4 linked regions of the Homo sapiens genome follow. The protein of the gene in region 4 interacts with the protein of the main gene of each other region in a biochemical or structural test. Each region holds a gene or a part of one and is shown on either strand. Other genes may lie near its edges. The genes, in order: ARPP19, SENP2, IRAK1 and IKBKG.

Region 1 (7,721 bases), on a different chromosome or scaffold from region 4:
CCGGATAATTTTTGTATTTTTTAGTAGAGAGGGGGTTTCCCCATATTGGCCAGGCTGGTATCGAACTCCTGACCTCATGATCCGCCAGCCTCGGCCTCCCAAAGCGCTGGGATTACAGGTGTGAGCCACCGTGCCCGGCCAAATTTTATTTTATTTATTTTCTGACACAGAATCTTGTTCTGTTGCCCAGGCAGGAGTACAGTGGTATGATCTCAGCTCACTGCAACCTCTGCCTCCTGGGTTCAAGCAATTCTTATGCCTCAGTCTCCCGAGTAGCTGGGATTATAGGTGTGGGCCACCATGCCTGGCTAGTTTTTGTACTTTTAGTAAAGACAGGGTTTCACCGTGTTGGCCAGGCTGGTCTTCAACTCCTGGCTTCAAGTGATCCACTCGCCATGACCTCCCAAAGTGCTGGGATTACAGCTGTGAGCCACAGCACAGGCCTTTTAAATTTTTAAAAAATATTTTAAAAGTAGCTCACTGTAGCCTCGAACTCCTGGTCTCAAGTGATCCTCCCACCTCAGCCTCCCAAGTAGCTGGGACTACAGGCCTACAGACATGCCACCACACCTGGCTAATTTTTATTTTATTTTATTTTATTTTGTAGAGACAGAATCTTACTATGTTGACCAGGCTGGTCTCAAACTCCTGGCCTCAAGCAATCCTCCTGCCTCAGCCTCCCAAAGTGCCAGAATTATAGGCAAGAGCCACCACGCCTGGCTGTTTTAGTCTTAGAGTGGTATACAAGTTAAGAGATAAGAGTTTATACTTATTTTTTATGTTTGTACATATTGTTTCCTAATACAAGACAGGAATCTATCTGGTTTTCTTCTCTTACCAAGGGTGCACACACCACTCAAGATAGAGAAAGTGACTTAGCTTTTACTCCATGCAAGGCCCAGCTATCTACCTTAATTCTTTAGCGGCAACAGGCAACCTACCAGTAAACTATAAAGGTATTTTTAGCTGAATACTTTGGCTTTAAGTGGAAGGTCAATTGGGTACACAGACAATAACTTAATTTTTTAGGTCATCGAACTGATCTTCCAAATAGAAGAAACAGGTGATTTGGCCCACAGGAACACAGAAGTGACTGTGCACATTTTCTTCATGGTTAGGGACACCATCCACGCCACAGGCACTTAGCATTTACAGCCAATCCTCAATTTAAGAAGGAACATTATATTCCTAACACACTTTGGTTGATTTTAATGACAGCAGCTAAAACCAAAGCACCTTAAATGTTTAATGTAGACAATCAATAAGAGAAAACGTTCAAGCTATCCTTAATATTGTTAAAAGATACATTAGGCTTTTCCAAGTAAAAGTATTTACACTCTAGAAGTCAATACTGCATACTTTGGCAACATACTAACAGAACTTATCAAAGAAAATTACATAGCACACTACTGTGCACCAGAAGTTAATGCTAAGTTTGATGTAAGTGTTTAAGGCAAACCACCACAGACAGGGACTTGTTATTTTTGGGGGCTCCTAAATTTCAAGCAATAATGAACACAATACGCATTTTACAATAAGCAGGTGATACTTAATAATACTGTTAAGATTGCAAACTTTAATATTTGTATTTTTGCCCCCAAAATCCATTTTTTTGGTAATGCGTAAATATATCTATTTTCACGGGATATTCTCAAATAATGTGGTAACTTGGACTTTTACCTATGCTATATGTTTTCTTGTTTTTCAATTACTTTAACATCCTAACAGAAGCACCCAACTTAAGAAAAGTTAACACGGTTTTAAGAACATATGGAATGGGCTTAGAACACTAATCCAATTCCCAACTTAATTAGGACATAAGTGCAACATTAAGCAGAAACCCGCACGAAGGTCAAGCAGTAGACCAAAATCGTATTTAACGGCAACACAACCTGATTTGTAAGAAAAATTGTTGATAAACAATTTAGGAGACAAGATACCTCGGCCCTTTCTCACTTCTCGGCCAGTCACACCTGCCTAGGAGGGCAGGGCGGTGGAAATAATTACAGTGGGAGAGACAAACACCAGCCTAGATAAATACAAAGGCTTGATATTCATAATTTGAACCACAGTGACACTCCCGGCCTATTCCCCTACATCAGGAAGACACAAGGGCGTTTACAAAATATTCCTGTTTCCAATAAAACCCTGATTAATTTCGTGAGTAAAATTTTAAAATTCCACCCTTTCGATTTTTAGTCAAGTACCATATTTGAGTCCCATCGACTGAAACCTTTTTGAGCACAGACTGCGCTGCACACTACACCTGACTCACCTCCTCTAGGCCTCACCCCGCCGTGGGAGGCAAGCACCAGTATTCGGCCTTTACAGGTGAAGACACTGAAGGCCGGACTTTACTCACTGACCATGGTTACAAGGGTTGGCCCTGAAATGCCAATCCTGGCCCACATCGCGGCCCGCACACGAGGCACTGCTTTTGGAGTGAACCGCACGCTCACAATACAAGTAGTTGGAGAGTTCTTCAAAGGAAAAAATAAAACTTCCTAACCAAATTGAGGCTTACAGAAAAACTTAGGCTCTACGCCCAAAGCCTGCGTCCTGGGCTCTCGCGTAAATATAAGTGACTGAGGAACACCGCGACCCACGGAGGTGTTACAAAAGGCACGATTCGGAGTAAACGCGGGGCACGTTGGAACTCCCAATTCGTCGGCGCACCAGCCAGCGACGGCGGGAAGCCAAAGGTGGGGCGCAGGAGCCTCGGCCTCATGCGCCTCGGCCCCGCATCTCGGGCGCGGCCCTCCGCCTGGCGGGAGCAGGCCGCCCGCCAGACCCGGCCTTGGGCAGGGCCCAGGGCTCACGCCCCGCGCGCTCACCTTCTGCTCCTCCGCGGAGGCTGCCTCGGGGACTTCCGCAGACATAGTGCTCCCTCTGCAGACGAGACGCCGGGAAAAGATGCAATTAGCGGGTGGCCGAGGCCACCCGGCCGCCGCCCGTCCCAGCTCTCCCAGGGCCCGCCGGGCCGCCTCCGCCCGCGAAAATGGCCGCCGCCTTATGACGACACGGAGCCGCGAAACGCTCCGCTGGCCAAGGCCCTCGCACGCCGGAGCCCGCCTGCCCCTCCCGCACCGCACCCCTACCTACTTGACCCCGCTTCTCCCGCTCGCTGTCGTCCAAACACTTCCTTTTTTCCTTCAAAGGTCGCCGCTCCTGCCTCACCTCACATCCGTTTGTGGCTGCCGAGTGCTTCCTGGGAATTGTAGTTTCTAAGTGGAACCGCCCCTCCCCGCCCTTTCCTGTCCACTCTGGTCCCCTCGTTCTAGGAGCTTTATTTTACTCTTTCCACTTACCCATCCTCGCCTAGTTCTGTTCTCCTCGCTCTCCGCTCTGTAGCCACACAGGCTGTCTTTTGGGCACGCCAAAAGTCTTGCTCCACTCTGCCACGCCTTCACATCTCCAGTCCTACGTCTCTGCCTCAGAACCTTTCCTTCCTAAACCTCTACACTAGGCCAGAGCCACCTCTTAAAGGCTGTCACAGCCCTGTACAGTTCCTCAACAACATGAACTGTATCATTACACAATTGTCGTGACTTTAGGTCACCTTTCCTTCTCAGATAAGCCGCACCAGGGCAGGGATCTCGTCTGTAATTACTTATATTTTACTCTGAGGGTCCAGCACTTCCTAGATATCTAACGAAGGAATTCAGATTCATTTGTCCACTCCCAGGGGGTCCACTCCCACAAGCTTACCGAAACTGCTAGCATTGAGCTCCCCCAATGACCTTTTTATTTGCCAAGTCCTGCGGCTTCTTACTGAATCCTCATTCTACTTGATATCTGAATAGTTACTCGCAATGTTTGTTGGTTCCAACAAAGTGTCCCTCAGAAACTTGGAAATAAGATTGCCCTCTAAAAGTTAAACTAGTAAAAAGCCACAGAAAATGAATGCATTTCTGGGGGCAGGGGAACAATTGAAAGACCCTAAATGCCTGGATAAGGAATTTGGAAACCATCGAAACTCAACCAGGATGTAGAATCTCAGACAGGAAGAATTGCACTGGAATTGCAACTAGAAAAACAAAAAGAGTTAATATTGCACTCCTTTTGGAGAAACGAAGGAAGGCATTTGTCAGCCAAGGAAGTATTGAAAATAAAAGGGTTCAACAGGCCAACTGTTTGACAAAGATATCCCTTAAGAATGTCTCACGCTGGGCTAGCTGAGAAACTGTAAGATCCACGACATATTTGTTCTCCTTCTATACTCACAAAGTAACATACTGAAAATTTGCCTTTCCCTTAAGCAGAACTGCAGAGAGAAAGAAGAGTGCAGTAGTTAGGCCACTGAAGCATTTAACAGTTGTATTTTTATTAATAAATTGACTGACGTTCTAGTATATGTCCTATATCAATGTATTTGTGAACTTGAGTTAAAATCTGATAGACATACACTTAATGATGAAACTCAGCCTCAAGAAAATTGGCTGTGGCTGGGCACAGTGGCTCACTCGTAATCCCAGCACTTTGGGAGGCCAAGGCGGGCAAATCGCTCGAGCTCAGGAGTTCAAGACCAGCCTGGCCAACATGGCAAATCTCTGTCTCTACAAAAAGAAAAAAAACTTTTTTTTCTTTTTCTTTTTGAGACAGAGTCTCAACTCTGTCACCCAGGCTGGAGTGCAATGGCACAATCTCGGCTCACTGCAACCTCCACTTCCTGGGTTCAAGCAATTCTCCTGCCTCTGCCTCCCAAGTAGCTGGGATTACAGTTGCCCACCACCACACCCTGATAATTTTTTGTATTTTTAGTAGAGACAGGGTTTTGCCGTGTTGTCCAGGCTGGTCTCGAACTCCCGGCCTCAAGTGATCCACCCGCCTCGGCCTCCCAAAGTGCTGGGATTATAGGAGCGAGCCACCACATCTGGCCTTTTTTTTAAAATTGGCTATGTGACCTTGGATAAAAAGAATCTGTTTCTGATAGTGACACTCGCAGAAGGGGAAGTTTGAATTTCTGGGGGCAGACTTTGGTCAAATGGAGAATTCACCATGGGCAATGCTCCACAATGAGGACCTGTCTGGAAAGCCATTCTTTCCCAACTAACACCACTCTGCATCATTATGAACCTTAATGTGTAAAACTGCACACTGGTCCCCAGCACCCTGTTTGTCAAAACTTCCTTCTCTTGATCTCCAGGATACTATTGTCTCATGGATTTCCTCCTACTTAACCTCCCTGTTGAATCTTAACCTGCCTCTTAATGGGAGGATTCTAACAGTTCTGTCCTTGGATCTCCTTCTCTTCTATGTTTACACAGCCTCCAGGAAATAACTTCCACCTTCATAGTTTTTTTTCTTTTTTGAAACAAAGTGTCACTCTGCCACCCAGGCTGGGGTGCAGTGGCACCATCTCAGCTCACTGCAATCTGCCTTCTAGGTTCAAGTGATTCTCCTGCCTCAGCTTCCCAAGTAGCTGGGACCACAGGCACATGCCACCATGCCCGGCTAATTTTTGTATTTTTAATAATTGTAGGCCTGGCACGGTGGCTCACACCTGTAATCCCAGCACTTTGGGAGGCCGAGGCGGGTGGATCACTTGAGGTCAGGAGTTCGAGACCAGCCTGGCCAACGTGGTAAAACCATCTCTACTAAAAATACAAAAATCAGCTGGGCATGGTGGTGGGCACCTGTAATCCCAGCTACTTGGGAGGCTGAGGCAGGAGAATTGCTCAAACCTAGGAGATGGAGGTTGTAGTGAGCTGAGATCATATCACTGCACTCCAGCCTGGGCAACAAGAGCAAAACTGTTTCAAATAATAATAATAATAATTTGTAAAGACGGGGTGTTGCTATGTTGGCCAGGCTGGTCTCAAACTCCTGGCCTCAAGTGCTCGGCCTGCCTCGGCCTCCCAAAGTGCTAGGATTACAGACTTGAGCCACTGCGCCCGGTGGACATTCATAGTCTAAACTGCCATCTAGGGATACCTTGTTTTTTGGGGCTTCATTTTATTGTACTTCTAGATACTGCATTTTTCACAAATTGAAGGTTTGTGGCAATCCTGCATCCAGCCTCTATAGGCGCCATTTCTCCAACACCATGTGCTTACTTTGTGATCGTGTGTAACATTTGGGTAATTCTTGCAATATTTCAAACGTTTTCATTATTATTATATCTATTATAGTGATCTGTAATCAGTTATCTTTGACATTACTATTGTAATTTTGGGGGAGTACCACAAACCACTCCCACATAAGACAGTGAACTTAACCAATAAATGTGTATGCTCTGACTGCTGTACCAACCAGCATTCCCCTGTCTCTCTCTCCTTGGGCTTCCCTATACCCTGAGACACAACGATATTGAAATTAGGCCAAATTATAACCCTACAATGGCCTCTAAGTGTTCAAGTGAAAGGAAGAGTTGCATATCTCTTCCTTTAAATCAAAAGCTAGAAATGGCCAGGTGCGGTGGCTCATGCCTGTAATCCCAGCATTTTGAGAGGCTGGGGCTGGTGGATTGCTTGAGCCCAGGAGTTTGAAACCAGCCTTGGCAATATGGTAAACTTCGTCTCTACCAAAAATACAAAAATTAGCCAGTCTCATAACCCGGTCTCTAAATAAACAAATAAATAGATTAAACATTTTTAAAAAGCTGGAAATGATTAAGCTTCGTGAGGAAGGCATGTCAAAAGCTGAGACAGCCAAAAACTAGGCCTTTTGTGACGAAGAGTTAGCCAAGTTATGAATGCAAAGGAAAGTTATTGAAGGAAATTAAAAGTGCTACTCCTGTGAACACATGAATGATATGAAAACGAGACAGTCTTATCGCTGATATGGTCCAAGTTTTAGTGATCTGTATAGGAGAGCAAACCAGCCACAACACTCCTTTAAGCCAAAGCCTAATCCAGAACAAGGGCTTAGCTGTCTTCAATTCTGTGAAGTCTCAGAGAGGTGAGGAAGCTAAAGAAGAAAAGTTTGAAGCTAGCAGAGGTGAGTTCATGAAGTTTAAAGAAAGAAGCCATCTTCATAACATAAAAGTATAAGGCAAAGTAGAAAGTGCTGATGGAGAAGCTGCAGCAAGTTATCCAGAAGATCTAGCTAAGCTAATTGACTAAGGGGGCTACAATGAGCAACAGATTTTCAATGTGGACAAAACGACCTTCTGTTGGAAAATGTCATCCAGGAGTTTCATACTAGAGGAAGTCAATGCCCGGCTTCGAAGCTTCAAAAGACAGGCTGACTCTCTTCTTAGGGGCTATTGTGGCTGGTGTCTTTAAGCTGAAGCCAATGCTCATTTACTATTCTGAAAATCCTAGGGTTCTAAATCTGCTCTACCTGTACTCTGCAAATGGAACTACAAAGCCTGGATGACAGCACATCTGTTTACAACATGGTTTAGTTAATATTTTAAGCTCACTATTGAGACCTACTGCTCAGAAAAAAAAAATCCTTTCAAAATATTGTAGCTCATTGACAATGCACTTGGTCTCCTAAGAGCCCTGATGGAGGTGTACAAGGAGATTAATGTTGTTTTCATGCTTTCTAACGCAACATCCATCTTGTAGTCCATAGATCAAGGAATAATTTCAACTTTCAAGTCTTTTTTTTTTTTTGAGTTGGAGTCTTGCTCTGTTGCCCAGGCTAGAGTGCAGTGGGTGCAATCTCAGCTCACTGCAGCCTCTGCCTCTCGGGTTCCAGCGATTCTCCTGCCTCAGCCTGTTGGGTAGCTGGGATTTACAGGCACACACCACCACAGCTGGCTAATTTTTTTA
Region 2 (8,018 bases), on a different chromosome or scaffold from region 4:
TATGAGAAGGAAGGAGAGGCAAGAGAAATGTTAAGCAACAGTTAGCTGTGCTGGGCACTGAATAGGCCCTTCATCTACATAAACACTTTTCTTTTTCTTTTCTTTTCTTTTCTTTTTTTTTTTTTTTTGAGAGGGAGTCTTGCTCTGATGCCCAGGCTAGAGTGCAGTGGCACGATCTCAGCTCACTGCAACCTCCGCCTCCTGGATTCAAGCGATTCTCCTGTCTCAGCCTCCAGAGTATCTGGGACTATAGGCGTGCATCACCACGCCTGGCTAATTTTTGTATTTTTTTAGTAGAGACGGAGTTTCACCATATTGGCCAGGCTGGTCTCAAACTCCTGACCTCGTGATTAGCCCGCCTCGGCGTCCCAAAGTGCTGGGATTACAGGCGTGAGCCACCGCATCCATCATCTTTTCTTTTTCTTTTTCTTTTTTCTTTTTTTTTTTTTGCGACAGTCTCCCTCTGTCGCCCAGTCTGGAGCATCGTGGTGCGATCTCGGCTCACTACAACATCGGCCTCCTGGGTACAAGCAATTCTCATGCCTCAGCCTTCTGAGTAGGCGGGATTACAGGCACCCACCACAATGCCTGGCTAAATTTTTGTGTATTTTTAGTAGAGACAGGGTTTCACTATGTTGGCCAGACTGGTCTCGAACGCCTGACCTCGTGATCCACCCGCCTCGGCCTCCCAGAGTGCTGGGATTACAGGCGTGAGCTACCGCGCCCAGCCCTCGTCTGGTACTTAAGAAAAACCTGTAATCCCAGCTATTCAGGAGGCTGAGGCAGGGGAATCGTGTGAACCCGGGAGGCGGAGGTTGCAGTGAGCCAAGATCGTGCCACTGCACTCCAGCCTGGGTGACAGAATGAGACTCCGTCTCCAAAAAAAAAAAAAAAAAAAAAAAAAGTACCAGAAGAGTTGGTACCTAGAAAGAAATTAATCTACAGAGTGGTGAATTATGTTGGATTTTAGGCACATTAGGCCTAACCCGACACAACCTCCTCTAGGGGCCCTTACCCTTTCCAACAAATGGCCTAGAATTCTTTTCTGTCCAGGGGTCAGGAAAAACAAAGTTGAGAAGAAGTTTGTTAAAGTTCTCTGAATGCTTTAAAAGGGGAAATTTGCAAGACTAAAGAATGGATTGGAGGGGAGGTAGGTTTGGAGGAAGAAGGGGGTGGGGCCCTGAAAAGGCTTCAAGGAGCTGCTCTGAGCTGAAAGGGGATAAGGATCTTCTTGGAGAACTGGGGCATCTGATTGGAACACCTGCGAAAGCTTAAGCGATGAGGTTGTGCCCCTCTTGCAGTACAAGGCTGCAAATTATCCAAGCCAAGGGCAGAAATCTCAATGTCCTTGTTACTCCATATGGCCTTGGGATTCTCCCATGGCCCTCCAGTAAAGCGCTGCTAGGTCCCGGAAAGGCTGTGGCAGTGGTGGGGTTGGGGTTAAGGATAATCCCACTCCTTGGCCAGTGGATGGACAGTCACCCATGTCTCTACTGTGGACCACAGGACAGCGAAGGCACCAACTGGCAGACAAGTCCCAGGTGGGAGCGAGTATAAGGATGCGTCTCCTTTTCTTCCTTCTAGAGGGTAACTAGGGGGATATGGAGGGAGCATGCACGGTGGGAGGCTGAGGATTGCCACATTCGATTCATGAGTTATTGTTTGCTGATGGGGTCCTGAGATTCTGACTGAGATCTGTAATTCTGAAGCCTTCTCACTCTTCCTGGCAGATGGCCAATGTTTCAGTATTGAGTTTGTAAGGGTGCTATTTATGAGGCAGGAAAAGAAAAAAAAAAATGTGTTGTTGTGTTGCACCGCAGGGCTATCAAGTGTGACCCCAATATATTTCTTTCTTTTTCTTTTTTTTTTTTTTTTTGAGACTATAAATCTCACTCTGTCACTTAGGCTGGAGTGCAGTGGTGAAATCACAACTCACTGCAGCCTTGACTCCCACCTCAGCCTCCCAAGTAGCTGGGACTACAGGCACATGCCACCACTCTTGGCCAATTAAAAAAAAATTTTTTTTAGAGACAGGTCTCCCTGTGTTGCCCAGGCTGGTCTCAAACTCCCTGGCTCAAGTGATCATTCTGCCTGGACCTCCCGAAGTGCTGGGATTACAGGTGTGAGTCACCACACCTAGCTTACCACAGTATTTCTTAAATCTCAGTGGCCAGACCTGGGATAAGTTGCTATTCAAAAGCAGCTTGTAGGTTTTTTGTTTTGTTTTGTTTTGTTTTTGAGACAGAGTCTCGCTCTGTCGCCAGGCTGGAGTGCAGTGGCGTGATCTCGGCTTACTGCAACCTCCGCCTCCCGGGTTCAAGTGATTCTCCTGCCTCAGCCTCCCAAGTAGCTGGGATTACGGGCACGCGCCACCACGCCCAGTTAATTTTTAGTAGAGATGGGGTTTCACCATGTTGGCCAGGATGGTCTCGATCTCTTGACCTCGTGATCCGCCTGCCGCGGCCTCCCAAAGTGCTGGGATTACAGGCATGAACCACCGTGCCTGGCAGAGCTTGTAGTTTTCTGATTTATGTGTGTGTGTGTTTTTTAACTTGGAAAAAAAAATTGTTCTCTTAGGATGTATGATTCGTGTTTAAATGAAGACTGCTCTTTTATTTGGGAGAATCCTCTCCCAGTACTTGAGCGGGCTTCTTGGTTTGGCAAAGGCAAAGCCCAACTCTCAATAGTGAGTGGAAGGGACAGACGTAACTGAACTGCTTTGCACAATAATGCCAATGACTGTCTTTTGTTAATAGGAGTCCTGACTCTTGATTACATTTACGGGGAGTCCAGCCTGAAATAGTCGGGGTAGAGGTAGAGGGAAAAGTCCCTTCTGTTGGCAGCTTGCCAAAGGTGTTACGAGTAAAGGGATGGCCTTGAGGTGAAGGGAATTCCTTTGCGAGACAATAGGCCAGGGACTATAGATGCTACATAATCTAATAGCCACTTCTAAGTCTTCTCAGCTTTGTAATGCCCCAAACTTTCAGCAACAGCCTGGTTGGTGTTTGCTATGCTTAGGGGAATAAGGGAGGCGGGTGTGTCCACACTTAGGATTTGCTTCCATCCTCTAGGATATGACCCCAGCCCCCGAGGCCAGAGTGGTGGTAGCTTCAGGTGTGTGGCTGGTGATTCTGAAGCTCTAGGGGGTGGCTTGCAGCACAATTCTGGAATGCTACATATATATATATATATATATATATATATATATATATATATATATACACACATACACACACACACACACACATACACACACACATGTATTTATTTTATTTATTTATTTTTTGAGACAGAGTCTTGCTCTGTTGCCTAGGCTGGAGTGCAGTGGTGCAATCTCCGCTTACTGCAACCTCCACCTCCCAGGTTCAAGCGATTCTCCTGCCTCAGCCTTCCAAGTAGCTGGGATTACAGGAGTGTACTACCATGCCTGGCTAATTTTTGTATTTTTTTTTTTAGTAGAGATGGGGTTGTCTCACCATGTTGGCCAGGCTGGTCTTGAACTCCTGTCCTCAAGTGATCCGCCTGCCTTGGCATCCCAAAATGCTGGGATTACAGGCGTGTGCCACCACACCCGGCCTGGAATGCTGTCTATTGAGGAAAGGAAGAGGCTGTACTGGGGAGTGCCAGCGTTGAAGTTCAAGCAAGTGTAAAACTCTGGCCTTAACTGAATCACAAGTAGGAAACAAGTTAATCAGGAATGGATTTGTGGGGCATGAAAACCTTTGAGGATTCTTAGGATTGTTTGGAAGAGGGGACTGGATTTTCTATCACTAAATAGGGTGGGATTTGTTTTACAGTTGATAATTTTTTGATGGGGTGCGTCAGGGTCCCACTCTGTCACCCTGGCTGGAGTGCAGTGGCGTGATCACGACTCACTGCAGTCTCAACCTCCTGGGCTCAAGTGATCGTCTCACCTCAGCCTACCAAGTAGTTGGGACTACAGGTGCGTGCCACCACACCCGGCTAATTTTTGTATTTTTTGTAAAGATGGGGTTTTACTATGTTGCACAGACTGGTCTCAAACTCCTGGGCTCAAGCTATCTGCCCACCTCAGCCTCCCAAAGTGCTGGGATTAAAGGCAGGAGCCACCGCGCCCGGCCTATAGTTGACAATTAACTAGAAGTGTGACATTGGAATTATAGAGGGAGAGTAACGAGACTCATTACTTACTAGCCCAGGGTAGGAGACATTAGTGGGCCGCAGGTTTCATCCTTAAATTTCTGTGAAGCCTTTCTTGAGGACATCTGCCCTTTCCTTCTCTCCCTCAGTGTGTGGTTTTCCTTTCTCTGGCTCCCACTGCACTCTGCACATACCTTTATCACAGCAACCACTTACGGTGTATTGTAATTTGTAATTATCTATGTACATGTCTCCAAGTAGACTGACCTCAAGGGCGAGGGACTGGCGCTGGTACTCAGACCCCGGGTTCAAGTTCCAGCCACGTCTCTAGCTAGTTTTGTGATCTTAGACAAATAACTTAATCGCTCTATGCCTCAATTTCCTTGACTTATAAAACTGGCTTAAGACTCTCTGTCACACGCCATTGCTGGGCATATTAAGGTGACAATGCGTGAAAAGTACGAGGCAAAAGGTAAGTGCAAAATAAAGGGCGCCTAAAACGGTAAACGTGTGTTAATTAACCTGATCTACCTTTACATGTGCATTCAGCAAACACTGAGCACCTAATGTCCTCTGGGACCCCGGAACGCCTCCTCCGGAGTGGAGCAGCCTCACATGTGGCCTGTGGGCCTTGTCCCACGGGCCGGCTCCGGATTGGCTCCGCCGAAGAGAAAACCCTGCCGACAGCCCTTCCGATCTCGTCAGCGATTGGGCCGGGACCGTCCCACAATTACTCTTGTTGCTGGGCTCGGAAATAGGGAGCGGTGCTAGGTTGCGCGTGCGCAGATTGAGAATGGAGCTTTCCGGTCGGGCGGGAGGAGGTGACGTCAGGAGTGGTGGCGGGCGGGGGCCTCTGGTAGCCCTGGGGACGCTGTATCTGTGGGCTCTTGAATCGCGTCACAAATCAGCGACCGAACTCTGGCGGTGGTGGTTAAGACGGCGAAGGCGGCAGCGGCGGCGACAGCTCTGGGGTTTGCGTCTCGGGGTGTGTCGGCCGCCGCTGCTGCTTGGGCCTGGTATGTACAGATGGCTGGTTAGGATTCTCGGCACCATTTTCCGTTTCTGCGACCGGTCGGTGCCCCCTGCCCGGGCCCTCCTGAAGAGGCGGCGCTCAGACAGGTGAGACGAGAGGGGGCTGAGCGCCAGCCTGGCCTTACCCCCTCCCCCACAGCGGGCTCCTCGGCCGTGATAGCTTTGATTCAGCCAGGCTCACCCGAAACAGGTCGCCGGGATCCTAGTGACGTAGTCGCTCCCGCCAGGCTGTAGGGAGGCAGCTCCTGATGAAGGAGGAGCTGGTCGTCTTCGTAGCGGCCGGTGATGGCAGGGTCTTTGACATTCTTGTCAGAGGCCAAGCTGGTTGCTGATAACAAATGGGGCTTTGCCGCTCTTAGGCTGAACACTAACATTGAAGGAATACTGTCTTTGTTGTGGCTCACTGTTTACAAAGCACCCTCGCAAGTGTCATCTGCAGACATTAAGTGCAGTTGAAGTGAGATTCATAGCTTGCCCAAAGCCGTTTTGACTGCAAGTACTGTCCTTGCAGCAAGAAACAGCACCTGTTTTGTTCCAAAACAGCTGTCAAACAGTCTGTGTGTTTGGGGCCAGAAGGGTTTTGTGCTTTAGAATTAGTGAATGAGTAAAAAGGCTTAGGTGCCTCACTCCTTTAAAACAATCACTAGTCTGTACTCTTAAATTCGGTTAAAATTTGGGGGAAACGCAAAGCTATTCTTTTCTTTTTTTCTTTTTCTTTTGGTTGAGACGGAGTCTTGCTCTGTCGCCCAGGCTGGAGTGCAGTGGTGCGATCTCGGCTTACCGCAACCTCCGCCTCCTGGGTTCAAGCGATTCCCCTGCCTCAGCCTCCCAAGTAGCTGGGATTGCAGGTGTGCACCACCACGCCTGGCTAATTTTTGTGTTTTTAGTAGAGATGGGGTTTCACTATATTGGCTAGGCTGGCCTTGAACTCCTGACCTCAAGTGATCCGCCCACCCCAGCCTTTGGAAGTGCTGGGACTGCAGGCATGAGCCACTGCACTCAGCCCCAAAAGCTATTCTTATTTAGCATCTACTCTTTGGAGTGTCCCATTTTATTGTATCGACCTCCTTACCTAAAAATCTGGAAAATAAAATACTATACAAATTCTATGCCCCCTCTTCAACTTTAGTGATCAAGTGTTAATTTTTTTTTTTTTTGAGAAGGAGTCTCGCTCTGTCCCCCAGGCTGGAGTGCAGTGGCGCAATCTCGGCTCACTGCAAGCTCTGCCTCCGGGAGTCACGCCATTCTCCTGCCTCAGCCTCCCCAGTAGCTGGGACTACAGGCGCCCGCCACCATGCCCGGCTATTTTTTTTTTTTTTTTTTTTGAGACAGAGTCTCATTTTGTTGCCCAGGCTGAAGTGCGGTGGCACGATCTCAGCTCACTGCAACCTCTGCCCACTGGGTTCAGGCGATTCTTCTGCCTCAGCCTCCGGAATAGCTGGGATTACAGGCGCCTGCCACTGCACCCGGCTTATATTTTTTGTATTTTTTTTAGTAGAGACGGGGTTTCACCATCTTGGCCAGGCTAGTCTTGAACTCCTGACCTCGTGATCCACCCGCCTCAGCCTCCCAAAGTGCTGGGATTACAGGCCTGAGCCACAGCGCCCGGCCACTACCGGCTAATTTTTTTTTTTTTTTTTTTTTTTTTGAGGCGGAGTCTCGCTCTGTCGCCCAGGCTGGAGTGCAATGGCGCGATCTCGGCTCACTGCAACCTCCGCCTTCCAGGTTCACGCCTTTCTCCTGCCTCAGCCTCCCGAGTAGCTGGGACTACAGGCGCCCGCCACCACGCCCAGCTAATTTTTTGTATTTTTAGTAGAGACGGGGTTTCACCGTGGTCTCGATCTCCTGACCTCAGGATCCGCCCGTCTCGGTCTCCCAGAGTGCTGGGATTACAGGCGTGAGCCACCGCGCCCGGCCCTCGCCCGACTAATTTTTTGTATTTTTTAGTAGAGACGGGGTTTCACCGTGTTAGCCAGGATGGTCTGGATCTCCTGACCTCGTGATCCACCCGCCTCGGCCTCCCAAAATGCTGGGACTACAGACGTGAGCCACCGGGCCCGGCCGTTAATTTCATTTTTTAAATTAAGCCTCAATATCAAGAAAAGTGGAAGAAGTGTTCATTTGTGGGAGCTTGAGAGAACAAGATGTCTAATACATTAGTCTGAGAATGCAGGTTATTGATGAGATTGGTTGTTGGCTAAATTGCATCGTGTGTTCCAGAGATACATGGTTTTGCCTTATTTTTCTCTCCTATCTTTCCGTTGGGTTGATATAAGGATCATTTGAGAACGTGGTGTAAAGTGCCTAAACTGATGCTTAATGTATATAAGGGTAGTATTTGTCTGTCCTACTCTGGGGCCTTTTGCAGAGTCTGGTGCATGATAAGCACTTGGTCCCTATTTATGGAATAAGGGAAAGCTAATTTCCTCTCCCTTGTCCTCTCCTTGATGTGAATCCCTGCTAGTCAGTGGAACATGGTTTGGCGATCAAAACCTTGATCTTTACTATACTTTAGGTGTTCACATCCTTAATCCAAAACAACACTTCTCAGTGTAAACCAATTTTCAGTCAAAATGAAGCCCGGCAGGGCTTGTTGGAATGTATAAAGTTATGAGCTGAATGGAATCCTGGGATCTCATTCTATTCATTTTTTTTTTTTGCATGTGTGAATATAATTGATCATAAGGGTTCAGAGAGATGATGAGTAATATACTATGACCCTTTAGCATTCTTGACATCTGGGTCCTGAAACTTTCCTCAATTCCAAAGTTCTTTATTACCATCATAATGTAGTTTGCGTGATAAAAATGAAGTTAAATATAACACTTGATTAAGATTTGTCTTTTTTAAGTTGTAGAACAGTTTTT
Region 3 (6,915 bases), 540 kb from region 4:
AGGCAAGGTCTCCCTCTGTTGCCCGGGCTGGAGTGCAGTGGTGGAATCATGGCTCACTGCAGCCTCAACGTCCTGGGCTCAAACTATCCTCCTGGGTCAGCCTCCTGAGTAGCTCAAACTACAGGCATGCACCACCATGCCTGGCTAATTTTTGTACTTTTTGTAGAGACGGGGTTTCGCCATGTTGCCCAGGCTGGTCTCAAACTCCTGGCCTCAAGTGATCTGCCCGCCTTAGCTTCCCAAAGCGCTGGAATCACAGGCGTGAGCCACCGTGCCCAGCATCAATTGCATTTCTGTATAATATCATGATGAACTAGAAAATCAAAGATACCATTTAGAATAGCATAAAAAACATGGACTACATCAGGAAAAACCTGACACGGGAAGTGCTGGGTGTGGCCAGCCCAGAGTAGTAACAAGACCCTGGACGCTCAAGAACCCTGAAGTGTAAGGCATCAGGAAAGCTCAAGGCTTTCGGTGCAACAAAGTCCACAAGTAGAGCCCGAGATTGCAACATACGTTTTTATTACTCAAGGACAACCTGGACGTCACCAATGCCCAGCTTCACGGGGGCATGTAGTGTGACTCACGGCTGAACACAAAATCACTGTGAAGCCTGTGCTACAGCCCTGGGCTACTTTTGGACACGCAAGAGGACACTCGGTTACATGAAACCTGACTTGCTTCTGAAGACATGTGATACATGTCTTTTCCCTGAAAATGTTTCCCTTCCCTGTCTGCCATGCTCCCAACTTTTCTGCCTTCCAGGGGCTTCTCACTGTCTGGGTAACTAGGTCTTGGGCCTAGCTAGACCTTGGGTAGTGGCCCCTCTGCCACAATCAGTGCCTGGGCCTGAGGCTGAGCTTGTGGCCTCCGAAGCCTGACCTGGCTCGGAGCTCGTCTGTGGCGCCCAGGGATGGCCTGGCTTGCAGGCCACCACATTAGGCCAGCTCGCAGGTCCCCAGTAAAGCCTGAAGACACTGGCCCGAGGTTGGAGGTGGGTGCTGCTCGACTTTCTGGAGGATCTCAGAATTCTCGCTTCTTGCTAGGACTGAACCATGAGACTTACAGCCATACTTCACTTTTCCCAGGGTTTTTCTTTTTGAAACAGGGTCTTGCTCTGTCACCCAGGCTGGAGTGCAGTCATACAATCATGACTCACTGCAGCCTCGACCTCCCAAGCATAAATGATCCTCCTACTTCAGCCTCCCCAGCAGCTGGGACCACAGGCGTGCGCTACCACGCCAGGCTAATAGTTTAAAAAATTTTTTGGCAGAGACAGGGTCTCATCATGTTGCCCTGGCTGGTCTTGACCTACTGGGCTCCAGCGATCCTCCTGCCTTGGCCTCCCAAAGTGCTGGGATTACAGGCGTGAGCCACCGCACCCGGCCACACTTTTCCAAATTGTAAGCAGGTAGGAGGGCCCTAGGCCTCGTCGGCCCCATTGTGCAGGGTGGCCACTGTCCAAAGAGATGGGCAAAGAGCTGCTGCCAGAGGCCTGGGCTGCAGACGCCCTGCATGGCTCTCAGGGGAGCCAGCTCCCTACTCCACACCCCTGCACAGCAGCCCCTCTCCTCCCCTCACGGGTCTGTGCAGCCAGCAGCCTCCCAACATGCGCCAGCCTCCTCACTGGATGATGCCAGCCTTCCTTGCCCCCAGATGCTGGCATGGAGGCAGGGTTCCACTCTGCCTGCCTATGCCCACAGAGCCTAGAACAGCAGGGCCACCTCCTTCTCTCCCCCGCGGGCATGGGCCCCCACCCCCACTGCCGGCAGAGTGCTGAGGACTCGTGCACCATGAGAACTTCTGACCATGAGAACTTTGACTTCCGGATTTGGGGGATCTGCCCAGGTGAACACATCAGCTCTGAAATTCATCACTTTCTTCGGGCCCCTGCCTGTCCTGTTCCAGGCCCAAGCCTACAGAAGGAAGAGGAAAGTCCGCTTAGCAAATGGGGGAGGCTCCCCTACTGCCAGAAGCCCTGGCTCAAGGCCTGGGCCATGCTCCCTTATCTCCTGGGGCGTTCGTGGGAATTGAGGGTTTTTGTTTGTTTGTTCATTTGTTTTTGAGACAGGGTCTAACTGTCTCCCAGGCTGGAGTGCAGTGGCTTGATCACAGCTCACTGTAGCCTCCACCTCCTGGGCTCAAGTGATCCTCCCATCTTGGCCTCCAAAAGTGCTGGTATTATAGGCATGAGCCACCTCGCCCAGCTGAGGGTTCCTAAGCAGTGGTTCTTCAAATAGTACCTGGGATGGAAAATTCCTGCTGGGGCTTCCTATTTCCTGAAAGCACAGAGTGGGGCAGGCACCCTCGGGCTAAAGGAGGTGCTACTGTCAGGAGGCGAGGGAAGGAGTGGGCCAGGGTCTTGCTAAGGGAGGCATGTGGGGCCGGCTGGGCTTCTAGAGGTCGCCAGAGCCAGTGGCCTGCCCGGCTGCCCCACGCCCTCAGCGCAGTCGGGACAGACACTCTGCTCTTTGGGGCTGACACGGATGCGCCTGAGCACCCCAGAGGCCAGCCTGGGCGGCAGCACCTGGGAGGGAGCTGGACGACAGCAGCTGCAGGCTGTCCAGGGCCCCATCCTCGTACAGGGCCAGCTTCTGGACCATCTTCTGTCGGGCAGGGTTGATGATAATCTGCGGTGGCTCTGACGACGATGATGCAGAGCTGCCAAGGGCCAGTCCTGGGGTGGAGATGGCACTCCCTTAGCCTCATGCTGTGGCTCCCCAGCCCGCAGCCTAGCACCCTGCCTCCCTGGCCTCAGGCCTGAATTCCTCAGAGAAGTCCAAGGGCAGGGCCCAGCTCTCAGGCTACCAGACAGAGCCCTCCTTGTTCCCAGCCTTCAGGAATGGGGTGGGGGGAGGGCTGGAGAGCAAGCTCCACCTGGGAAGGATGTGGCCTGGGGAGGGGAAACCAGGGTTGCTAAGGTCACAGTGAGCTGAACATTTGGCCCTGGTTCTCTTCTAGAAGGCTGGGGTGGGGACTTACAGGGGCTTTGGCCCAAAGAGGCCTTGGTCCCTCTCCTGGGAACCCGTCTCCCCAGCTACCTTCCACGGCTGTGGGCCGGGATCCTGGGCCACTCCCCCAGCTCGATTCTCCTGCCGTGTCCCCCTGAGGACAGCCGGCCTCCCTGAGGGGTGCTGGGTCCAGAGGGCAGCTTGGAGTCAAGTGCCAGGAGCGCAGGGCAGCAGAGAGGCCGCCTAGGCTCTCGTCACTCTCCACGGGCTGGTTGGGGCCTCTCTGCAGCTGCTCTGCTGCCTGGGCACTGGCTCCTGATGGCGCTGCCAGGGGCTGCCATGGAGCAGCCCCACTGTGGGCTCTGCCAGTGCTGGACACGTAGGAGTTCTCCTGCGGGGAAGGGGGGATGCAGCTGGCGGCCTCCGAATGCCCGGGCACCCCCGCCACCACTGCCTGCAGCTTCTCTAGCCTCTCGTACACCTGCAAGTGGAAAAGAGGGACTCTCAGGGTGAGATGGCAGCCCTGGCCGGTCACCCCGTGGGCAAACCACAGGGCTGCTCCAGGCCGTCCGTGACCTGCCCCAGGGCTCTAAAATGACATACCCTGCAGCTGGGAACGCTCTGCCCCTCGCCCCTCTGTTCCCATCACAGGGAGTGCTGAGAAGCGCGGCTGCCAAAAGCAAGGACTGAGAATGGCCTCGTTCTTTTCTACAAAATGAATCTCACTGCCCCGCTGCCCTCAAACGGGGCCTCTCCATTTTCAACTGTCACCAGAGGAGAAGAGGTGGGGTACTAGGGAGGGGACAGAAAAAGGCAGATGCAGTAGTGCAGTGCGCCCAGCAGGGGGCGCGGCAGCAGCTCTTTCCTTCTCTCTATGTGAAGGGGGTCGGAGCTGGGCTCCGCAAAGCAGGACTGCCCGGGGCCCCTCAGTTCAGAGGGGCGCTGCCCCAAACAGAACCAAAGGGCAAGCAAGAAATGTGTGGAGACTCCAGAGAGACCTAGCAGGTGCTGAGATGGGGTCACTACAGAGCAAGGCCTGGAATGCGGGCTTTCTATCTGGCCACCCCGTCCCAGTGCGCAGCTGGCTACCTGGGTCATAGGAGGCCTCCTTTTGGCCCGGCGGTGCAGGCAGCAGCAGGCCAGCTGGCCCAGGCCCAGGCCCAGCTCAGGTGGGCAGGGCCCGGGCCTGGGGTCCAGGTGCTTCTTGTAGATCTGCATGGCGATGGGAGCAGCCCAGGCATCTGCAGCCAGACCTGCTTGCAGTGTGCTCTGGGTGCTTCTCAAAGCCACTCCAGCCTCCTCAGCCTCCTCTTCCACCAGGTCTTTCTGTGGGATAAATACTGTCAGTATGGCTACCAGGTGGCCACACCTGCAGCTGCAGTCCTCAGGTCCTTGTCACTCAATCGTATGGGTTTTGATAAAAAAAAAAAAAAAAAAAAAAGAGATGGGGTCTCGCTTTGTTGGCCTGGCTGGTCTCCAAGTAGGCTCAAGTGATCCTCCCGCCTCAGCCTCCCAAAGTGCTGGTGTTACAGGTGTGAGACACTGTGCCACAGCTCTTGGTCTTTCTACAACTTACTTTTTTTCTGAGACAGGGACTCATTCTGTCACCCAGGCTGGAGTGCAGTGGTGCAATCATGGCTCAGTGCAGCCTCAACCTCCCAGGCTCGTGATCCTCCCACCTCGGCCTCCCGAGCAGCTGGGATTACAGGTGTGTACCACCATGCCTATCTTGCTATGTTGCCCAGGCTGGTCTCCAACTCCCAGGCTCAAGCGATCCTCCTGCCTCAGATTCCCGAGTAGCTTCTAGAGATTTATTAAACACCTACTGTGGGCCAGTGGTGCTCTGGGCCCTAGGGATACAGGAACAAACAGAACCCTGGGACCCGGTTTGACAGAGCTGACTTCCTGGTGGGGGAGAGCCCCATGGAGCTGGGGTCTGAAGGCAGGAAGTAGCCTGAGAGGGCAGAGCCGAGAAGGAAAGCGCCCCACAGAGAGGTGCCCCACAGACAAAGAGGTACCCCAGAGAGAGAGGCGCCCCGCAGAGAGGCGCCCCCAGGGTGGAAACAGGACCGGAGGCCATCTCCAGTTCTGAAATCAGACAGACCAGGAGGAACCACCTGGGTGGGCGGTGGCTTTTCTCGCAGAGCGAACGGCACATACTAAGGCTGTGAAGCAGGCAGCAGGGAGCGCCCCGAGTCCCAGGGACCTGGGGCGTTGGGGGGTCAACCACATAAGGGACTGGGCCTTCACCCCAAGAGCAGAGAAAAGGCAAAGGGGCCTTTGAAAAGAGCACTTTGGCTGCAGGGTGGGGAGCAAGTGGGGAAGTCCAAGGACCCCCAAGGAGCCTGGTGCGCTTCTTCAGCAGGATGCATGGATGGACGGACGGGGAAGGGAAAGGAAGGAGGGCTCAAGCCCGGCTCCTGGGTTCTCAGCGGGGCTGAATCCTGACGGAGACCCCACAGCACACAGGAACCGCCCCAAACAAGAGGAGAAGCAGTGAAGCAATTACTGGCTGAGCACATTCTGTGAAGTCTGTTTTGCATATGGGAAAACAGGCCCACAGGGGAGCAGGAATTTGCTGGAAGGCCACTGTCAGGCTGGGGCTAAAACCCAGGTCTCTAGTCTCCTGGCCCCACCACAGTCCACGGTGAGGCAGACTGAGTGGAGTAAGACCGTGAGGCAGCTCAGGCTGCCCTGCACGGTGCGGAGAGCTCAGCTGCAGCCTGCTGGGGCCCAGGAGGTTCCTCGGGGCCTGCTTCTTCTCTACCACCGCCTTTCTCCGGCCAGAGTCCTCTGAGTTCCACTGCAGCTTGGGTCTCAGTGCCCTGGGACCGCCCTTCCCCCTGCCCCCAGCCCAGGTGGGGTCTGTACAAGGCCCATAGTGTCTGCAGGACAGACAGGTTTGTCCTCGGCAAGGTAAACGAAGTTGTTTGGAGCCCTGCCTACTTTCAAAAATGAGGCCACTGTGGCAGCAGAGGCATCCATGGGCACTGCGCCCCAGTTATCCCCGCCACTGGGGCTGTGCCTGCTGGCTGCCAGCAGCTGTGTGTCCCTCCTGGCCCTGCCTCAAGGGGCTCACCAGATACTTGGTCCTGGCACCGTGCGTCTTCACAGCCCTCTGACCAGCCAAGGTCTCTAGCACTACCTGGAGAGAGGGAAGAGGGAGAGCATGGCAGTGGCCTTGGCAGGGAAGAGGCCTCTGGTGTGGACATGGATTGGGCCTGACAAGGGTGTGGACAAAGGCAGAGCCAGATGTTATGGGACTGAAGCTCGGGCAACTCGGAGAGCCCACTTGAAGACAAATTACAAACACACAGTTAGGTGCAGGGTGAGGAGGAGGGCCTCGGAGGGAGGGGGACCCTGGAGCTGCAGCCTCCTGGGGTCTTGGCAGATGGCCCCTGGCCCGCAGTGCACTCTGCAGCCCCCACCTCTGCCTGCCTGTGGCTTCTCCTCCTCTGAGCCAGCAGAGGGGTCAGTGGCTCACCACCCCAAAGCTGAAGGTGTCCGTGTCCACAGCCAGCCTTCCCGTCTTGATGTACTCCTCGGGCAGGTAGGCCAGGGTGCCCCGCACTGTCTGTGTCCGGGCCACCATGCTGCTCTGGCTGGGGCTGGACCCGGCAAAGCGGCTGAACCGGGCCAGGCCAAAGTCTCCCAGCTTGGGTGTCAGCCTCTCATCCAGAAGGACGTTGGAACTTGGGGAGAGAAGACAGTGGCGTCAGCCCGGTCCTAGCTCCTACACCTGCCCGGCTTAGATAAGGCTGGACTCGAGGCTGCCAGCCCGGTGCCTTGCCCACAGAAAGCGCTGGCACTGCCCTGAGCGCTCCAGCTGCCTGGGGGCCTCTGCTCATCAGTAGGGCCCATCCTTGGCCCGTTCCCACACCTGTGCGATGCCGGGGTGTTGAGGTCCCAGGCCATGCCTGATCCCCACATTGATAGGACGCGGGGCCCCCCTTGCTGCAGG
Region 4 (7,019 bases):
ACACGGCTGGCCTCGCGGCAAGGACGCTGGCTGCCCCGTCATCTTTCACCTGAGCCTGCACTCGCCCCCTCCCGACTCCCTCCTTCTCCCTTCGCAAGGCCAGGCCGCCTCTGCTGGGGCGGGAACGGAGCTCAGCTCTCTCCCCCGCAAGCAGGGGTTTCTGAAGAAGATCTCTTTTGCCAGCTTGAACAAAGGCCCGCTTTTGTGTACCTTTGTGTATCTCCGGTGTTCTTGTCAAAAGAGGAGGACAGGCACAGAGGCCCGCGGGGACAAGGCCACAGGATGACGGAGATGGAGGCTGGAGAGGTGCAGCCGGCGGCCCCCGGCGCCGTGGAGAGGCCTGGAAGGCAGCTCCCTCGCGGCCCTGGCGGGGAGCCCACCCTGCCGACACCACCGCTAGCTCAGCCTCCAGGCCTCCAGAAGCGGGAGGCCACGCGTTTCTGTGGCTTCGGCCCCGCAGTCTGTGGTGCTTGGTCACGGCAGCTGTAGAAAACTCATCCACTTCCCACACAGGAAATCAACGCCTTAAGCCAGGCGCTCTAAGCCCTGAGTGGAGCGGCGTGCACAGCCCACCATCCACGCCTTTCCCCAGGGGAGTGGAGCCTGGCTGTGGCAAGTGCCAGGTACCCGCCAGCAAGTCTCCTCTCCAGCACTTCTCTCCACCTTGCCCCTCAAAGGGAGCACGGCCCCTTCCTGACTACCATCGCCAGGATCCTGCGATCAGCCAAGCCCACACACAAAGACCCTGAAACCAGGCGGTCTGTGCTAATGACACGATTTATGGGGGGAGCCTTGGGCCACACAGCTGGACCTCTGGTGGCTACAGCCGAGTGACCAGGGTTGGCCACGCAGGCGCTCGGTGCCCACGCGGCCCACCCCCCGTGAAAACCCCGGCCGCCACGGCTGGGGTGAGCTTCCCGGTTGTGACTCCGTGCTCGCTGTCCCACACTGTTGCCGAAAGAAACAGGTGCCGTCTGCACAACTCCCCTGGGCGAGGAGCCGCTGAAGCTCACGCCTGGTCTCTCCTGGAGCCCGCCCTGTGCGCCCTGAGCCTTCGCTCACCGTAACCTGTGTCCTTTCCTTGTAATAAACCGGAACTGGGAGTGTGACGGCTTTTCTGAGTTCCGAGCCCTCCCGGCACAGCACTGAGCCCCAGGGTGCTTTGGGGGACCCCGACCACGGGTTCCCTTGTGGAACACTGGCGTCACCGCGGGTTTTCAGAACCTGGCCCTGCCCCGACTACCTGCTGGCATCTCTTCAGGTGCTCCACCTCCCGCAGAGCCTGCTCCTTCTGCCTCTTCAGATCGAGCTTCTCCAGGCCGAGTCTCTCCACCAGTTTCCTGGCCTCCTGGAACTTGCACATGAGGAACTCCTTCTCCTCCCTCTGGCTGGCTTGGAAATGCAGAAGCTCCTCGCAGCGCTCCCGCAGAATCTGGTTGCTCTGCCGGATGGCATCTGGTGGCAGAGGGGACAGTGGAGGGGAGCTGGGCAGCCCGGCCTGCCGGGCCCTGCCTGGGCCCACATGGGCCTGAGGCTCAGGAAGTCAGAGGCCAGAAGTGGGGCCACCCATCCTGGTGCCCCCACCCGCCATAATACCACGCAGCTTCTCTCAGGGGTGGATGGCGTCTCAACACTCCCTTTTGTTTCTTTAAACACTTCCAAAATCCTTTACACTAATGCCCCTCACTTTCTGCAAGAAAATAACACCAAACACATCAGCTTCACTTAAAAGTACGTGTTGGCCAGGCACTGTGGCTCATGCCTGTAATCCCAGCACTTTGGGAGGCCAAGGTGGGTGGATCACCTGAGGTCAGGAGCTCCAGACCAGCTTGGCCAACATGGTGAAACCCCGTCTCTAATAAAAATACAAAAATTAGCCCGGTGTGGTGGCACACGCCTGTAATCCCAGCTACTTGGGAGGCTAAGGCAGGAGAAGCACTTGAACCTGGGAGGTGGAGGTTGCAGTGAGCCGAGATCACACCATTGCACTCCAGCCTGGGGGACAGAGCAAAACTCTGTCTCAAAAAAAAGAAAAAAAGTATGTGTTAAATGCCACTTTTTTGAATTTTTATTTTTGTAGAGACAAGGTCTTGCTATGTTGCCCAGGCTGGTCTCACATCGTTGGCCTCAAGCAATCCTCCCACCTCGGCCTCCGAAAGTGCTGGGATTATAGGCATGGGCCACTGTGCCTGGCCTTATGCCACTTTGTTTGTAAGTGACTCGAATTCATTTGTATTCTGGTCAGTCTGAGGTGTGCCTGCCCTCAGATGCTCGGTATTGGTCCTCCCTGGCCTACATCTCTGCTGTCTTCTAGATCGGGGGTCCTAACACGCCTGCAGACTCCTAGGGTCAGCCTCCCAGGCAAACTTCACTGCAGCATTGCTGGCTGCAGCCTGAGAGGCCCAAAAGGCTTGGACCAGGCAAGTTAGTGGCGTCTCTGAGCCTCAAAGTCCTCATCTGCATAGTGAACAGAGACAAGAACATTCATCTTACAAGACGAGGAGGGTTAAACGAGGAAGCAGAAAACAAACGGGAAAAACCGCTGGTCCTCCCCTCACCAGAGCATGTGTGCCAGTGCCAGGCAGTCAGCAGAGGCCACAGGAAGGAGAGCCCCACACCCAGGAGACACCCCAAGTAGTGAAGAAGCCATCTGAGGTGACAAAACTGATAAGTGATGTGCCAAGGTTCTAGCAACTCTATAGCAACTACAGAGCTGGATAAAATGGGGCAGGCAGTAGCTACCCCGTGATCAAAACCCTCAACCAACTAACTATTGCCTGCTGACGAGCGCAACATCCACCCCCCATCAGAATCCCGCTTGCTCTGCCCAAAGCTCAGCTCATCTGCAACTTGTCTTTTTTTTTGAGACAGACTCTCGCTCTGTCGCCCAGGCTGGAGTGCAGTGGCGCGATCTCAGCTCACTGCAACCTCCACCTCCTGGGTTCAAGCAATTCTCCCTGCCTCAGCCTCCCAAGTAGCTGGGATTATAGGTGCCCGCCACCACGTCTGTAGCTAATTTTTGTAGTAGAGATGGGGTTTCACCATGTTGGCCAAGCTGGTCTCAAACTCCTGACCTCAGGTGATCCCCCCGCCTGGGCCTCCCAAAGTGCTCGGATTACAGGCATGAGCCACTGCACCTGGCTGGCAACTTGTCTTTTAAAAAATGTTCTGAACTGAGGTAAAATTCACATGACATCAAATTCACTATTTTAACTAATTCAGCAGTTTTCGGTGTATCCATCAGGTTGTGCAACCATCCGCACTATCTAATTCCAGAACAGTTCCGGGACCCCATAAGCAGTCGCTCCCCCAGCACCCTCCTCATCTGCATCTGCCTCTGCAGATTGGCCACTTCTGGACATGTCTCACACTAGTGGAGTCACACACTAGAGACATGCAACTTCTTCGTGAATCTCTCCCTCAACATTCTAAGTACAGCCTCCTCCATGGACATAAGCATGTACATCTTGGGGGACAGACATCTTCTGGGCCCTTAGGGGCTTGGCCCAGGGCCTGACACATGGAGCTACCAAGTTTCACCTGCCACCCACAAAGCTCAGGTCAGGCGGAGCAGGGGGAGTCAATACAGCCTTGAGGCCTCCTTGTGTCCCTGGAGCCCGAGGGAAGCTGCTGCACTGAACACACAGCCTGGAAGGGAAGCAAGGGCGCCATACGCTGTGCCAGGGTCCCTGCACAGCTGGCCTGCAACACTCACCCTCAAGTCCCCCTCAATAGAGCACTCTCCTGGGGATGAGCAGAAGCCCCCAGTCTAACTGTCACCTCTCTGTGCACCAGTGCTTTGAAGATCCCAATACAGTGGGTCTCACCAGGGACAACTGTATCCCCCAGGGGTCATTTGGCAATAAATATCTGGGGATATTGTTAGTTGTCACAACAGGACAGGTGCTACTGGCATCTAGCAGGTACAGGCCAGGGACTCTGCTCCACACCCTACAACGTACAAGAGAATTCTCCAGCCCCAGGTGCCGATGGCACTGAGGTGGGGGACCCTGTCCTGGAACAGGCAGGTCATGTTGGGTCTCCATGCTCCAGCAGGGCCTCTCCAATTCAGCCTCACCGTCGAGGAGACCAAGCAGCCCCCTGACAGCAAGCTGACTGCACTGACCCCTTCCTCCATGGAAGGAAAGGTGATTTGCCTTGACAGTAAGAGGAGACACATCGCAGGCATGGGTCTTGTCTCTGCCCACGGGGTGTCAGCCAGAGCCACTCTCTGAAGCCTACAGACTATGTGACTTGTCAGCACAGAGCCCCACATAACATCTCGGACCACAGTCCAGCAAAGAAGGCGGGGGAGTGGGCCCATGACAGCGATCTCTAGTAGTCACGGCACATGCCACCTCGCCCAGGAGCTGCCAGCCAGCCAGGACACGGAGAGCCAATTGAAGCTGCCAGCTCAGGGATGACTCCTGCAAGGAAGGGGTGTTGTCCTCCACGATGGGGTGGACACTTAGGCCTGAGTCCCCAGCAGGAACCAAAGGATGAAACAAAAAGGGCTACAGGCCCCACCACACCCAGTGAGCCATGTGGGGAGTCTATGCCGCCCCTCCCTGCAGCTCTGGGACCCGAGGCTTAGAAGGCCCCCGCAGCAGAAAGGCAAGAGTATATGGCGGGTGCCACCTGGCCCCGCCAGGCTAACCCAGGGCAATGCAGAGCAGTGGCAGGGAGAGGGGGTGAGGGGGAAGAATGGCAGGGGCTGGGGGTGCCATCACGCCCAGGGCGCGGGCAGGAGCGTGCAGCTGAGCCCTGAACCCATGACGACCTGGAGCTGAGCAGCAAGAGGGTGAGGGGCGCCCGGATGGCAGTCTAGGAAAGAACTCCCCAGTCCCAGCCACTGGGTGTGGGAAGTCAGCCTTCACCTCCGCTGAGGTGTGCGCCGGGATTGCCCCAGAGGAATGTTGCCTGTGGGGGCCACGCACCTTCCTTCCCAAGACAGACCACGCCCCTCTACCAGGGCATGCCCCGCCCATTTCCAGGACAGGCCCCACCCCCTCTCTGGGCAGACCACGCCTCTTCCCAGCGCCGACTCTGCCCTGTCCCAGGATGGACAGCACTTCATGAGTGCTCAGTGCAGGGACACAGAGGCCTGGACATGTTGGTCCAACCTGGAAGGTTCATTCCAGCTCCAGAGCTCCCTGTAAGATCCAGCAAGGCTGTCCTGGAGCCTACCCGGCAGCGTGCTTCTCCCTCTGCCCTCCCTGGCTTCTTCCCCTGTCCCTCCTTTCCCTTCCCAGTACTGGTCCTGAGAGCATGCTAAACTTCCTCCCCGCTAATCTGCATCTCAGAGTCTACTTCCTGAAACCAAGAGGGAGGGCAGCACATCCCCACCCCAGGCCCAGGAAACGCAGAGGTGCAGGTGGGGAGAAGACGCCTTCCCCTCAGCAGGGCTGGATCCCCTGACTCTTTCCTCACCTCGGAGCTCTTGATTCTCCTCCAGGCAGCGCTGGAGGGTCTCAGGAGCGCCCTGTTCTGAAGGCAGGTGCAGCATGGCTGGCTTCCCCAGAGGAGACTCTTCGCCCAGTACGTCCTGATCTGCTGCCGGGCCACCACTGGGCTGCACCATCTCACACAGTTGGCTCTTCCAGAGGTGCCTATTCATCCAACAGGGCAAGGGCTGAAAGAGAAAGGCAGCAGGGGAGTCACAGGAGACCCACATCCTTACCCAGCAGAAAAAGCCTATGAGTTCTGGGGCTACATTTTAAACAGAATGCTGATAATTCACCTAGTGTATCAGGATGCTAAAGTGGGTTTTCAGTCTAAGGGGTAGCAGATACTCCCATTCCAAAGGGAGGTGCTGGACCACCCATGTGGGACTTGAAAAGGCCTAGCTCCAGGCTGGAAATAGAAGAATTTCACCAGAGATGGGAGAGTCGGGACAAGACTGTTTGTGGAGGGAGATGTCAGTATGCTGGGAATCCTGATCCCCTACACACCTCCAAGCAGGAGAAGTGGAGGGTACCGGCCCCTCATCCAGTGTAGTGGGCTGAATGGTAGCCCCCCGAAAAGATATGCCCATGTTCTAACCCCTGAAACATATGTGATTCGGGAAAAGGGTCTTTGCAGATGTAGGATCTCAAGATGAGATCATTCTGGGTGACGTGGGTGGGCCCTAAATCCAACAACGTGTCTTTATGAGAGACAGAAGAGAGAAGCCAGAGGGAGACGCAAGGGGAGGAGGCCATGTCGGGACTGCCTCGGAGACTGGAGTGAGGCAGCCACAAGCCCAGGAATAAATGGGGCAGAAGCTTGGGAGAGGCAAGGGAGGATTGCCCTCTTAGAGCCTTTGAGGGTGTGTGCTTGCTAACCCTTTGGTTTTGGACTTCTAGTCTCCAGAACTGTGAGATTAAAATGTCTGGCCGGGCGCAGTGGCTCACACCTGTAATCCCAGCACTTTGGGAGGCCGAGGCGGGCCAATCATGAGGTCAGGAGATCGAGACCAGCCTGGCTAACACGGTGAAACCCTGCCTCTACTAAAAAAAAAAAAAAAAATTGCCGGTCACGGTGGCTCACGCCTGTAATCCCAGCACTTTGGGAGGCCGACACGGGTGGATCATGAGGTCAGGAGATTGAGACCATCCTGGCTAACACAGTGAAACCCTGTCTCTACTAAAAATACAAAAAATTAGCCAGGCATGGTAGCGGGCGCCTGTAGCCCCAGCTACCCAGGAGGCTGAGGCAGGAGAATGGCGTGAACCCGGGAGGCAGGAGAATGGCGTGAACCCGGGATCGCGCCACTGCACTCCAGCCTGGGCAACAGAGCGAGACTCCATCTCAAAAAAAAAAAATACAAAAAATTAGCAGAGTGTGGTGACACGCGCCTGTAGTCCCAGCTACTCGGGAGGCCGAAGCAAGAGAATCGCTTGAACCCAGGAGGCGGACGTTGCAGTGAGCTGAGATTGTGCCACTGCACTCCACCCTTGGCTTTCAGAACAGCCCCTTCTCCTGGTTTCCTCCCTATCTTGCTGGCTACTCCTGCCCAGGCACTCTCACTGGGTTCCCAT

The links.
Region 1: the proteins of IKBKG (region 4) and ARPP19 form a complex in vitro, tested with the Homo sapiens proteins (one study listed by BioGRID and IntAct).
Region 2: the proteins of IKBKG (region 4) and SENP2 form a complex in vitro, tested with the Homo sapiens proteins (2 studies listed by BioGRID and IntAct, with this or other methods).
Region 3: the proteins of IKBKG (region 4) and IRAK1 form a complex in vitro, tested with the Homo sapiens proteins (3 studies listed by BioGRID).

What each region holds. Positions count from the first base shown.
Region 1 is NC_000015.10:52,566,014-52,573,734, forward strand, and holds the start of ARPP19 (cAMP-regulated phosphoprotein 19), read right to left. Parts: upstream 3,018-7,721; 5' UTR 2,880-3,017; coding exon 2,835-2,879; intron 2,820-2,834; exon of another isoform or gene 2,276-2,819; intron 1-2,275. UniProt on the Homo sapiens protein: Protein phosphatase inhibitor that specifically inhibits protein phosphatase 2A (PP2A) during mitosis. Inhibition of PP2A is enhanced when ARPP19 is phosphorylated.
Region 2 is NC_000003.12:185,581,277-185,589,294, forward strand, and holds the start of SENP2 (sentrin-specific protease 2), read left to right. Parts: upstream 1-5,018; 5' UTR 5,019-5,137; coding exon 5,138-5,238; intron 5,239-8,018. UniProt on the Homo sapiens protein: Protease that catalyzes two essential functions in the SUMO pathway.
Region 3 is NC_000023.11:154,009,999-154,016,913, forward strand, and holds the end of IRAK1 (interleukin-1 receptor-associated kinase 1), read right to left. Parts: intron 6,647-6,915; coding exon 6,439-6,646; intron 6,100-6,438; coding exon 6,034-6,099; intron 4,281-6,033; coding exon 4,044-4,280; intron 3,436-4,043; coding exon 3,045-3,435; intron 2,681-3,044; coding exon 2,531-2,680; intron 1,920-2,530; coding exon 1,861-1,919; 3' UTR 509-1,860; downstream 1-508.
Region 4 is NC_000023.11:154,550,601-154,557,619, reverse strand, and holds part of IKBKG (NF-kappa-B essential modulator), read right to left. Parts: intron 5,633-7,019; coding exon of another isoform or gene 5,618-5,632; coding exon 5,431-5,617; intron 1,456-5,430; coding exon 1,244-1,455; intron 1-1,243. UniProt on the Homo sapiens protein: Regulatory subunit of the IKK core complex which phosphorylates inhibitors of NF-kappa-B thus leading to the dissociation of the inhibitor/NF-kappa-B complex and ultimately the degradation of the inhibitor.